Linked DNA regions of Homo sapiens. The protein of the gene in region 3 interacts with the protein of the main gene of each other region in a pairwise test. Each region holds a gene or a part of one and is shown on either strand. Other genes may lie near its edges. The genes, in order: TGFBI, MRRF and FAM9B.

What was found.
Region 1: the proteins of FAM9B (region 3) and TGFBI interact in binary tests that used the Homo sapiens proteins (3 or more experiments, as listed by UniProt).
Region 2: the proteins of FAM9B (region 3) and MRRF interact in binary tests that used the Homo sapiens proteins (3 or more experiments, as listed by UniProt).

The regions. Positions count from the first base shown.
Region 1 is NC_000005.10:136,049,422-136,053,072, forward strand, and holds part of TGFBI (transforming growth factor-beta-induced protein ig-h3 precursor), read left to right. Parts: intron 1-17; coding exon 18-159; intron 160-3,485; coding exon 3,486-3,651.
Region 2 is NC_000009.12:122,278,356-122,282,006, reverse strand, and holds part of MRRF (ribosome-recycling factor, mitochondrial isoform 1 precursor), read right to left. Parts: intron 1,565-3,651; coding exon 1,409-1,564; intron 1-1,408. UniProt on the Homo sapiens protein: Responsible for the disassembly of ribosomes from messenger RNA at the termination of mitochondrial protein biosynthesis. Acts in collaboration with GFM2. Promotes mitochondrial ribosome recycling by dissolution of intersubunit contacts.
Region 3 is NC_000023.11:9,031,933-9,035,683, reverse strand, and holds the start of FAM9B (protein FAM9B), read left to right. Parts: upstream 1-1,556; 5' UTR 1,557-1,832; intron 1,833-2,400; exon of another isoform or gene 2,401-2,562; coding exon of another isoform or gene 2,563-2,697; coding exon 2,698-2,725; intron 2,726-3,222; coding exon 3,223-3,343; intron 3,344-3,522; coding exon 3,523-3,554; intron 3,555-3,751. UniProt on the Homo sapiens protein: May play a role in meiosis.

The DNA.
Region 1 (3,651 bases), on a different chromosome or scaffold from region 3:
TTCTCTCCTCCCCACAGGCTGCTGTGGCTGCATCAGGGCTCAACACGATGCTTGAAGGTAACGGCCAGTACACGCTTTTGGCCCCGACCAATGAGGCCTTCGAGAAGATCCCTAGTGAGACTTTGAACCGTATCCTGGGCGACCCAGAAGCCCTGAGAGGTGAGCATCCTTTGGCTCCTGCTGCTGCCTCATTTGTGCAGCTAGATTGAGCCCAAGACCTGCTCTGGTCCAAGATGAACATACCACCTGCCATGAGGTGACCCTCAGGATATCCACTGCAGCCATGGGCTGGGGTCATCCTGTCCTGTTGCTTCAGCTAACCGTGTCTCTAGCAGCCACACTACTCTGAGGGCTGACTACAGAATCCAGCAGCTTTTGTCTGGGAGAGCTGGACTGAAGAGAGGCATAGCTGGAGACCCATAGCTGGCCCTGGCCAGAAACAGGGAGAGTGAAAGGCTGGAATAGCCAAGGCCAGAGCAAGGCTAATAGGTAGAGCAACAGCTTACAGGTGTGGGGGTGGCAGATACTGGCACCCTTGAAATGGATTCCTCATGCCCACGCTTCACTATTCTTCTCTGTGGCTAGGGGATTTATGGATAAACCAAAATTACAGTTAAAAACCAGCCATAGGCCAGGCACAGTGACTCACGCCTTTAATATCAGCACTTTGGGAGGACAAGGTGGGCGGATCACCTGAGATCTGGAATTTGAGACCAGCCTGGCCAACATGGCGAAACCCCATCTCTACTAAAAATACAAAAATTAGCTGGGCATGGTGGTGGGCACCTGTAATCCCAGTTACTCAGGGGCTGAGGCAGGAGAACCACTTGAACCCAGGAGGTGGAGGTTGCAGTGAGCCAAGCTTGCACCACTGCACTCCAGCCTGGGTGACACAGCGACACTCCGTCTCAAGAAAAAAAAAAAAAAAAACAGTTATAGTAGTCAACTTTTGACTCTCCATTTCAGATTTCGTCATGCCCTCCTCAATGAGCTGCTAAGTTAGGCAGTGCATTGATTATTGCTGCAGGAGAGGGAAGGAAGGAGCTAACGTGTTTTCACATGTTTTCCTTTTGGAGATGAGAAAGGAGGACTCTGCCTTCCCCCTACCCTGCCCCTTTCTACTCCAGGACCTCTGAAAGGCCATGAGCACAAAGCTGCTGCCTGAGTCCCCTGAAATGCAGGGTACGCCCCAGGTCTCTGATGTACCCCACCACACTTTTCCTCTCAAACATATTCCAGGATCACTTGATTTCTTTTGAATCTATTTAAACCCACCGTGTCAATGTGCTATATAAAATGTCTAATGCATTTCAGACACCCTATACATCTATACATTTAAAGTGTTCTCCTTCTATCTGTGCAGGGATGGGAAAGGGCATATTTCTGAAAGCACAGATGGGAAGACGGGATTTGTTCCGTGTCCAGGTGATTATGGTACCTCTATGCGCCTGGCCGGCACTGGGGACAGAGGCCATGAAAATGAATACAGCACAGCCTTTGCCTCCAAGAAACTTAAGACCTAGTAGAAATGGCAGGCTTTAAAACAGGTTGTTGGGATCTGATTTGGTGAGTGCAATGACAGAGATACTCACAGCACAAAATGGGGAATGAGGGCGGGCATTGGGACACACATAGCCTTAAGGGGCCCAAAGGCTTTTAGAACTGTATTCCCTATTAAAACATGATTTGCACAGAGCACATTCTTTGCTTTGGAGACCTCAGAACTCCTTACTATAGGCCGGGCATGGTTATAATCCCAGCACTTTGGGAAGCCAAGGCGGGCAGATCACTTGAGGCTGAGAGTTCAAGACCAGCCTGGCCAACATGGTAAAACCCCGTCTCTACTAAAAATACAAAAATTAGCTGGGTGTGGTGGTGGCCACCTGTAATCCCAGCTACTCAGGAGGCTGAGGTAGGAGAATCACTTGAACCTGGGAGGCAGAAGTTGCAATAAGCCCAGATCATGCCACTGCACTCCAGCCTGGGCAACAAAGCTAGACTCTCTCAAAAGAAAAAAACAAAACAAAACAAAACAAAACAAAAAAAACTCCTTATTATAAACTGTAAGAAAAAAAAGGCCCCTACTTCGTCCCTTTTGCAAATCTGCCTTTTCCTACTCACTAACCAGCTGGTTCAGAGCAAGGACACTCTGTTTGGTGCCATCGCTGCAGACTGGAAGGAAGAGGTCCTTGCCCCACACCCAACAGTCTCCTGCTGTTACCGGCAGGTTGGCAGGCAGGCAGGCGAGAAGCAGCCAGGGCTGGTGGTGTGTCCAGTTTGAAGACTAGTTTCCAGCCCTGGCCCTGCTCACCCTCCAAGTGGCCCTGGCAGGTTCCTCTACCACATCGTGGACTTCACCTTCCTTCTCTAAGAAGCTCAATCCCCAAGGCCTCATTCCCATAGGCCTTCTCACCCTTTTTCTTTCCCTCTGGCTGAATGTGGCCAGCACGGGCTTCCAAGGCCATCAACTCGTCTGCAGCAGCCCCATGCCTTGCAGGGCCTCAGAGCTTCCTCCTGCCTATGACAGTGTGGTTTTGGTTCCCACACTTGGGATCAGATTGAAACTCGCCTCCGTGGTGAGAATATGGGACATAGAGCCTCGGTGACCTTGGTGAGCAGCAGTCCAGGCCACCTGCTCAGCCTGGGGTTGGGGGGGGCTCCTCCTCCTTGACTGGTCCTTGCATTTGCCTCCATCCAGCCTGTCTGGGCTCTCCGAGGCAATGGAGACCAGCAGGAGTCACGATGGGTCAGGAGCCCCCTTTGGGCCTCAGCCCTGCCCTGCCCCCTAAAGTAGCACTTGGATAAGCAAATAAATTATTATACTTACTATTTATGGGTGTGGTGAATGGGATGGCAAAGGCCAAGTCTTACTGATCACCAAACCTTAAGATATATCCTGGCAGCTAGTAGACCCTTGGGCTAAATGAACAGAAAACTGGACAAATAAAGTGTACACAAATAACTCAAAGCTGTCATTTGTACACTTTTCGTCTTTTCCTACTACAGTTTACATTTTTATAAAGGTGAGTAGATTTCTAAAATCCCGTGGTAGGCTCTCTTGAGTTTTTCTTGTATCCCTGAAGTTCAGCTACAAATAAGCTAATCACTAACATTTGTTGAGCATTTACTCTGTTGTCAGGCCCCGTGCCGAGTGCTTTAGGTTCAGAATTTCATGTCATCCCCACAGCAGCCCTAGGAGATGAATGCAATTCTTATGTCCACTTGACTGATAAGGAAGTTGAGGTTCAAAGAGGCTAAATGACTCTCCCAGGGTCCCACAGCTGGAAAGTGGCCACAGGGCCCCAGCTGGTTTTCTAGGGCAGCAGGCAGAAGGCGAGGAGGATCTGGGCCCTGTGGTGCCCCAGCCTCATCTGAGGGTCCTCATCTGAGAGAACAGGATCCTCACAGCATGGGCAGGCTGCAAGTGGTCCCTGAGGTTATCGTGGAGTGGACCCTGACTTGACCTGAGTCTGTTTGGACCCCAGACCTGCTGAACAACCACATCTTGAAGTCAGCTATGTGTGCTGAAGCCATCGTTGCGGGGCTGTCTGTAGAGACCCTGGAGGGCACGACACTGGAGGTGGGCTGCAGCGGGGACATGCTCACTATCAACGGGAAGGCGATCATCTCCAATAAAGACATCCTAGCCAC
Region 2 (3,651 bases), on a different chromosome or scaffold from region 3:
CCTGATTTGCCATGAGATCCTTTGCCACAGAAGTCCCAACACAGGCTTTTCAGAATGCAATTGTGGTGGTTACCATTCCTAAATCCGTATCGACATAATGCATCAAATCCTTTTCCCTCAATCTGTCCCCAGCGAGAATCTCCCTCAGCCTCATTCCTGCCCCTCATTTTCTCAGAGGTTAACATTTAACAAATTACACTCCCAACCTCTTTCCAGGCCCATCATCTTTTTAAGTTCAACAAGAGTGGAGCTTGCTGGCTAATTTTAAGTATCACATTTCTCCCTGAGCTCCTCTCAAACTGCTCTCTGGTTTCGGCTGCAGAATGTTAACAGGCCAGAAAACACAGGGGAGACAGAGCACTTTATCAGTTTCATACCTAAAATAATAAGCAAGTTTAAAATAAACAGTTGAGAGAGATTGAATGGCACGCTCTACTGTCAGCAAAGGCAGAAATGCCCCAGCCCAAAGGTTGACAAGTGACGGGAACAGTCTTCTAGTTTCACACTGGATCTCATCTCTGAACTCGGTAATGTTTCTGATAGTGTTTATAAGTGGAGCTGTATTTTTCACTTGGTTTTCTTAAGAGCGAAATATTTCTAGTTTTCTTATGAACTATCCTAATCAAGATGTGAGTAGAAGCAGCCCAAGCTCCCACAGGTACCTTAAGAGAGGGGTCCCAGGTTTGACTTTAGGATGATGACAATTTGCAAAAGCCTAATTTAACAGCAACTGGATTTTTCCTGCCTGCTTGCACCATCAGCTGACAACTCACTTCTCCATCACATCTGCAAACAGTTGGCCTAGACAGTTCTGACATTTCCCACTTAGAAAAGCCACTTTCAGGAAGTTATTAACCCAAACGGAATCTTCCTGGTCAAGCTCAGGGGTATAGAAATGCCTCACGTGGGCAGGTCTGTATTCATTTGGTTCCCAGTAAGGGATAAGAACTGCCAAACAGGACAAATTGGAAAAATCGGACCAAAGATGTCAGTTACTATGAGACTAAATACCTAGATGTGTTTATAGTACATTCATAATAAAAATCTCATTTTTCTGAGAGTCTAATTCCATGATAGCAAAGACAATACCTATTTTTGTTTACTACTATGCACTAGCACAATGCCTAGTTCCAAAGTAGACAAAAATTTGCAGCATGGATAAATAAATGTAGTGTTAACTATGCGCCAGGCACTATGCTAGAACCATAATACGTTACCTCATTTATTTTAACTACCACCCCAAAGCTGTAAGTTAAGAATCAAACAAGAAAACCGAGGACCAGAAAAGCAAAGTAACTGCCCATGGCCACCAGTTAGTAAATGGCAAAGCTGGGACTAAAACTCAACTCTGCCAAACCCATGCTCTTTCCATTACATCCCTCCCCAGAACATTGGTTCAGTCACTAACCTGGTGAGGTCCTTATATTGAGAGTCTTATTGAAATTATCCTTGAGAGCTTCTATCACAGACTTCATTTCTTCATTCACCTCTTCCAAGTTGATTATATCCTCAACCAAGGCAGCATTAATATTCACTCTGGTTTGGGACTGTCCTTTCCCTTTGGCTAAAAAGTGAACATTCAGTGAATAAAACAACAGCAGCATAAACAGAGCCAATAAGCAATTGGTGAAGAAGTACCTACTATGTACAGGGAAAAATGTCAAGTGTTAGAAAATTATAAAACATTATCGCTCCACTAAAAAAGAGCCTATATTAACTGAGTGTCAACTGTGCTAAACACCTTCTCAGATACTAGTGAGGGGGCACACTTTATAATCAGACACCCCAGGTTAGAAGTCTGGCTATAATGCATACTAGCTTTATGACCTTAGGCAAGTTATCTTTCTGAGTATCAAGTTCCCTACCTGTAAAAGAATAGTAACATCTATATTGCAAGGTTGCTACAAGGATACAAATTAAGTCATTCAAACACCTAAAAGAACACTATACACATGGCAGGGAATCCATAACTAAATTAATCCCTTACTTTTCAGAAAAGTAAACAGAAGATGAGAAAGGTAAAGCTATTTGCCTAATGTCACAGGTCAGGAAATGGAAAAGTCAAGATCTGGTTCCAGATCTGCCTAATTTTAAACCCATGAACTTTTCACTAGCCCATCTCCACAAAATCTAATTAGAGAGACAGGAAATACATTAATTCATTAAAAATGGACACTAAGACAAGGATATGCACACAATATCTGATGGCTGGTAGAGTACAGACAAAAGGAACAATAGTAGTTTACAGACATTAAACACTACCAATGGTAGAGACAATGGCTTATATTTTAGAAAATCAACAGCATTGGGAGCTGAATATAATTTCATTTTATGTCTAAATCATCGTAGTGATTTTTCATATACATTCTAGGTGTATACATAGATAATTTCTGTGAGTGATGCAAATATTCTTGCATTTCTTTTATAGGGAATGGGGAAGGAGAAAAACAATAAAATTTTAAACAATATTTACACTGTTTATTCATTAAACATTCAACAAATATTTATTGAGATTCATTAAATAAATTTTGTTGAACATCTACAGTGAACTCAATCCTGTACTATTTGGGTGGCATATTATAACTTGCAATGCAATTTCAAGTACATTCTCCTCCTTGCTATCCAAGATAGCTCTCTGAGGTAGGAAGAATAGTGATTAGTATTGTCCCCATGGTACAGATGAGAAATCTAAGGCACAAGCCATTTAAATGTTTCGTCCAAAGTAAACAACTGGTAAGCAACAGAGTGATTTTTAAAAACATTTATTTGCCCATGTTACCATTATGCTTTGAAACCAATGGCTTAGGTTTTTTTTCAGAACTGATAGAAGATGTGGGGCTGGGCGCAGTGGCTCATGCCTATAATCCCAGCACTTTGTGGGGCCGAGGCAGGCAGATCACGAGGTCAGGAGTTCAAGATCAGCCTGACCAAAATGGTGAAACTCCATCTCTACTAAAATTACAAAAATTAGCTGGGCGTGGTGGCGTGTGCCTGTAATCCCGGCTACTCGGGAGGCTGGGGCAGGAGAATCGCTTGAACCCGGGAGGTGGAGGTTGCAGTGAGCCGAGATCAGTGCCACTGCACTTCAGCCTGGGCGACAGATCAAAGAAAAAAAAAAAAGATGTGGATCTTCGGATTGAGAAACACAAGTTTCAAATAGGACAATAAAAGTAAATTCACACCTAGACATGTTGTGACTGCAGAAAACAAAGGACAAAGAGATCTTTATAAACGCCCAAGAGAAAAGACAAATTATCCATGAAGGATTAAAACTTAGAACACTTTCCAAGAGCAACAACAGAAGCCAGAAGCAACTGAAATAATATCTTCAACTTTGAACTTTTAAAACCAAATATGCACATTAATAATTTAAAGATATGCCTGTCAATATTGGAATGAATAGTAATATTTATGAATGAAATACTATGCAACCATGAGAAAGAATGAACACACACAAAAATTTAAATGAGTCTCACAAACATGATGTTGAACACAGAGGCCAGACACAAGAAAACAAAACTGTACAGTACAAAGGCCAGATATGAGAATATAAACTGAAAAGTAAAAAAAAAGAGAAAACGAATCCATGCTACTAGAAGTCAGAATAATAGTTATCTGCAAAGGGTCAAGGGTAGTACTTACTAGAAAGAA
Region 3 (3,751 bases):
TGGTCTCTCCTGGACAGACGGAGCTTAAACTCTCATATCACTGTTCATTTTCATTGATTGTTTTGCTTTTATTTTCTACGGTTTTGGGTTTAGGCACATTGATGCTGTGTTAAGCACAAAATGATTCATGTGAGATTGTCAGAGTAGATTGTGCCCTTCTCTTGTTCAGTGTACTCTGCCTTTAGTTTATTCATTTATTTTTTGCATTATTTTACATTCATGAGATATCAATTCTCAGATCCATATTTTCCTTTTCTTCATATTTTTCTGATATGTACTTTTTGTATCATTTTGTTTAATTCCATTCTTACATACAGCATATACTTAGGTTTTTATTTTGATCCAAGTTGGAAGTCATTTCCTTTAGAATGCGAGTTTATCTCATTCATATTTCTTGCTCAACAGATTCACTTGGCCTTAATTCTGTTCTTTTATGTTATGTTATGGTCTCTGTAGTATTTTCTTTATTTTCCAACTTTTACTACAGGATTTGTATGCTTTGTGTGTGCTCTTTTTGGTTATATAGGCATTTAAGGCTGTGGATTAGTTTTCCTGATGACTGCCTTTATAATTTCAATAGTATAATGAAACTCTGTATCTTGATTTACAAACTTTAGGCAATATTTATTCACTCCCAACTCCGAAACAACTCTCTCCCTATTACAGGGGATCGGAGGTGGGAAAAAGCTGAGTTAACGATAAGTATTAAGGCATTAATTTGTGGGTGAAGGTTGTGGCATATGTCTGGATAAGTCTGGAGTATGAAGGTTTGTGGGCAAGTCTGGGGCATGAGGATGAGAAAGAAAAGTAGTGAGGAAACAAAAAAGGTTATGGGCTGGGCACGGTGGCTCACGCCTGTAATCCCAGCACTTTGGGAGGCCAAGGCATGCGGATCAACTGAGGTCAGGAGTTCGAGACCAGCCTGGACAACATGGTGAAACCCTGTCTCTACCGAATATGCAATAATAATAATAACAACAACAACAACAACAACAACAACAACAACAACAACAACAGGGCGTGGTGTTGGGCTCCTGTAATCCCAGCTCCTCGGGAGGCTGAGGCAGGAGAATCGCTGGAACCTGGGAAGGGGAGATTGCAGTGAGCTGAGATCTTGCCACTGCACTCCAGCCTGGGCAATAGAGTGAGACTCAGTCTCAAAAACCAACAAACACAAACGATAAAAGCACAATCCATTGATTAAAAAGGACGCAGCTGGGCATGTTGGAAGCACACAGGGCATGGGAGGGAGCCTGGGCTCCACCCACAGGGTGATGGCCATTCTAGCCAAAGGGGCAGGGGTGGCTGGAACAAGCCCCAGGGCGAGGTTCTAGGCCCTGTCCACTTGGCCTCCATCCCAAGTCCTTGTGTCTCTCCCCAGGAGGAGAAGCTGAAAGATTGTGGGGACAGAGGCCCCAAAGGGCCACCCCCACCCCAGTCCACAGCAACCACGGGCTGTCACTTAGGGGAAGGGTGAGGGCGTGCCAGCAGGGGGCCTGGCCCCACACAGCCCGTCACACGCATGTGCACTGAGCCGACCAATCAGCGAGGAGCGCAGGAAGTCCTGCCTGCAGCTCTCACGAGAACTGAGGACCCGTTTTCTTTACTTTTCTTTTTTTTTGTTTTTTTGTTTTGTTTTTTTTGGGACGGAGTCTGGCTCTTGCTGCCTAGGCTGCAGTGCAGTGGTGTGATCTGGGCTCACTGCAACCTCCGCCTCCTGGGTTCAAGCAATTCTCCTGCCTCAGCTTCCTGAGAGGACCCGTTTTCTAAGAGGTCCTAGTGGTGCCGCTGCCTGCAGGTTCTTTGAGGGCGCCACATCAGGGGTCCCTCAGGTGAAGCACTCGTGGTGGGGAGGCGGGAACGCAGGCACGAGGCCCTCTGGGAACCAGGGTGTGAAGCGCTGGGCAGCCCGCCGACCTGTGAGGAAATGGCCCCAGCGTCGTCGCCTGGGGCCTGGGTCAGGGCGAGGCCCTGAGGGTGGGCTAGGGTGGGCTGGGGTGGGCCAGGGCAGGGAGGGAGCTGGAGCTGCCTGGGTGATCCCTAGGGCCCGGGAGGGTCCTGGGGGCTTGTGCATGTGTTGGGGGGAGGGGCCGAGGGGGGGAGAAGTGGGAGTGAGGCGGGGGTGTTGTGGGGGACAGTCTGAGTGGGGCCCTCCTGCCTGGCCGCCCGACAGGACAGGACACTTGGGGTCACCGGGGGTCACCGGGGGTCCCCTGTGCGTCCAGGGGGGCGAGTGGCAGTGCAGCCCCTGACATTCCCCTAGAGGTGGCTGGGGAGATCCTGTGTCACCCAGCGGCCCTCCCAGCCACATGGGGTCGCTAGGTGACTCAGAGGTAGGGCTGAGTTCTGTCCCAAAAGGGCGGCGAGGATCCCGCAGAGGCCGTGGAGTTCAGGTGTGAGGGGCAGCTGTGAGCTTTGCAGCCAGCCCCGGGGACGGGCTGGACGGGCCAGGACAGGAGGGGACACTGGCATCTTTTCCGTCCCTTCCTGCTCCCACATGAGACCCAGGGCGGGCCAGCCCCACCCTTCTTGAACCTGTGATCCCAATGGCTTTCCTTTCCGATGCCAGGTTTCCTTAGCTTCCTTAGTGTGTCTTTGCGCTCACCAGGTTCGGGGATCGCCTCTAGCTTCCCAGGACAACCAGCCACGGATCCTGTGGGCAGGAGGGCTGCCAAGGCCCAGTTGGAGGCTCAATTTATGGCGGCCTGGGGGAAGAAGCATGCAGGTAAATACAGCCCAAGGGGACCCAGAAGAAGGTGCACGCCCAAGAGGACGGTCTGTCTGCTTTCTGCGCTGGGGGCACAGGGGCAGCCCGAGGCCCCAGGCCCCTTCGTGGCTCTGGAGTCCATTGTGCACGTGCTAAGATGCGCCAGGTTTTCAAAGCAGGCTCAAGGGCCTTAGGCTTCCCCGTGGAAGGCTCCCCCTCATAGCAGGGTTACAGATGCTCTCAGAGCAGCTCTTCTCCATGGGTGCAGTCCTGACATCCAAGGGGTCTGAACTGTAGTACGTTGTTTACTGGAACCTGAACCCGAAGGGCTTCCAAAAGTCCCTCGATAAAATGGTCAGGAACCGGTGATTCCATGTATAGCTCTGCTTTAAAGCTTTAATTGGCAGAGAGCCCCCCCCCCCCAAAAAAGTCTACAACTAGTACATTTCTCCACAAAAAATGTCCACAGCAGCATCTTCCTCTAAAAAAGGTTTGTCTTTTACATTTTAATGCAGGAAAGGATCCAGTCCGTGATGAATGTGAGGAAAGAAACCGTTTTACAGAAACAAGGGAGGAAGATGTAACTGATGAGCATGGGGAAAGAGAACCTTTTGCTGAAACAGATGAACACACGGGGTAAAGTGTTTAAGTCACTTTTGCCTGTCGGATAGGGTCTTTTAGGAAAAGTCAGCTTTGGACCATGTCATCACTGTTCTATTCTATGCAGAACATTTCACATAAGACATTTCTTTTCCCAACAAACATGGCATTTTGTGTAGTATTTTGTTAAAATTTTGATGTAACTTTTTTTACAGGGCTAATACCAAGAAGCCAGAAGATACTGCAGGTATGTTTTAGGAGTTATCTGTAGTTTATGAAAATTGTTTTCAGTCATACAACTGTTGCAGTAGGTTATATGAATTAGTGGACGACAAGACTGTCTTAAATGGCTTCTCATATGTAGCATTTAACGTACGTATTTAATGTAATCTATTTGATAAATTTTTCTTACCTTTTTGATTGTTGATGTGGAATGTGAGAATG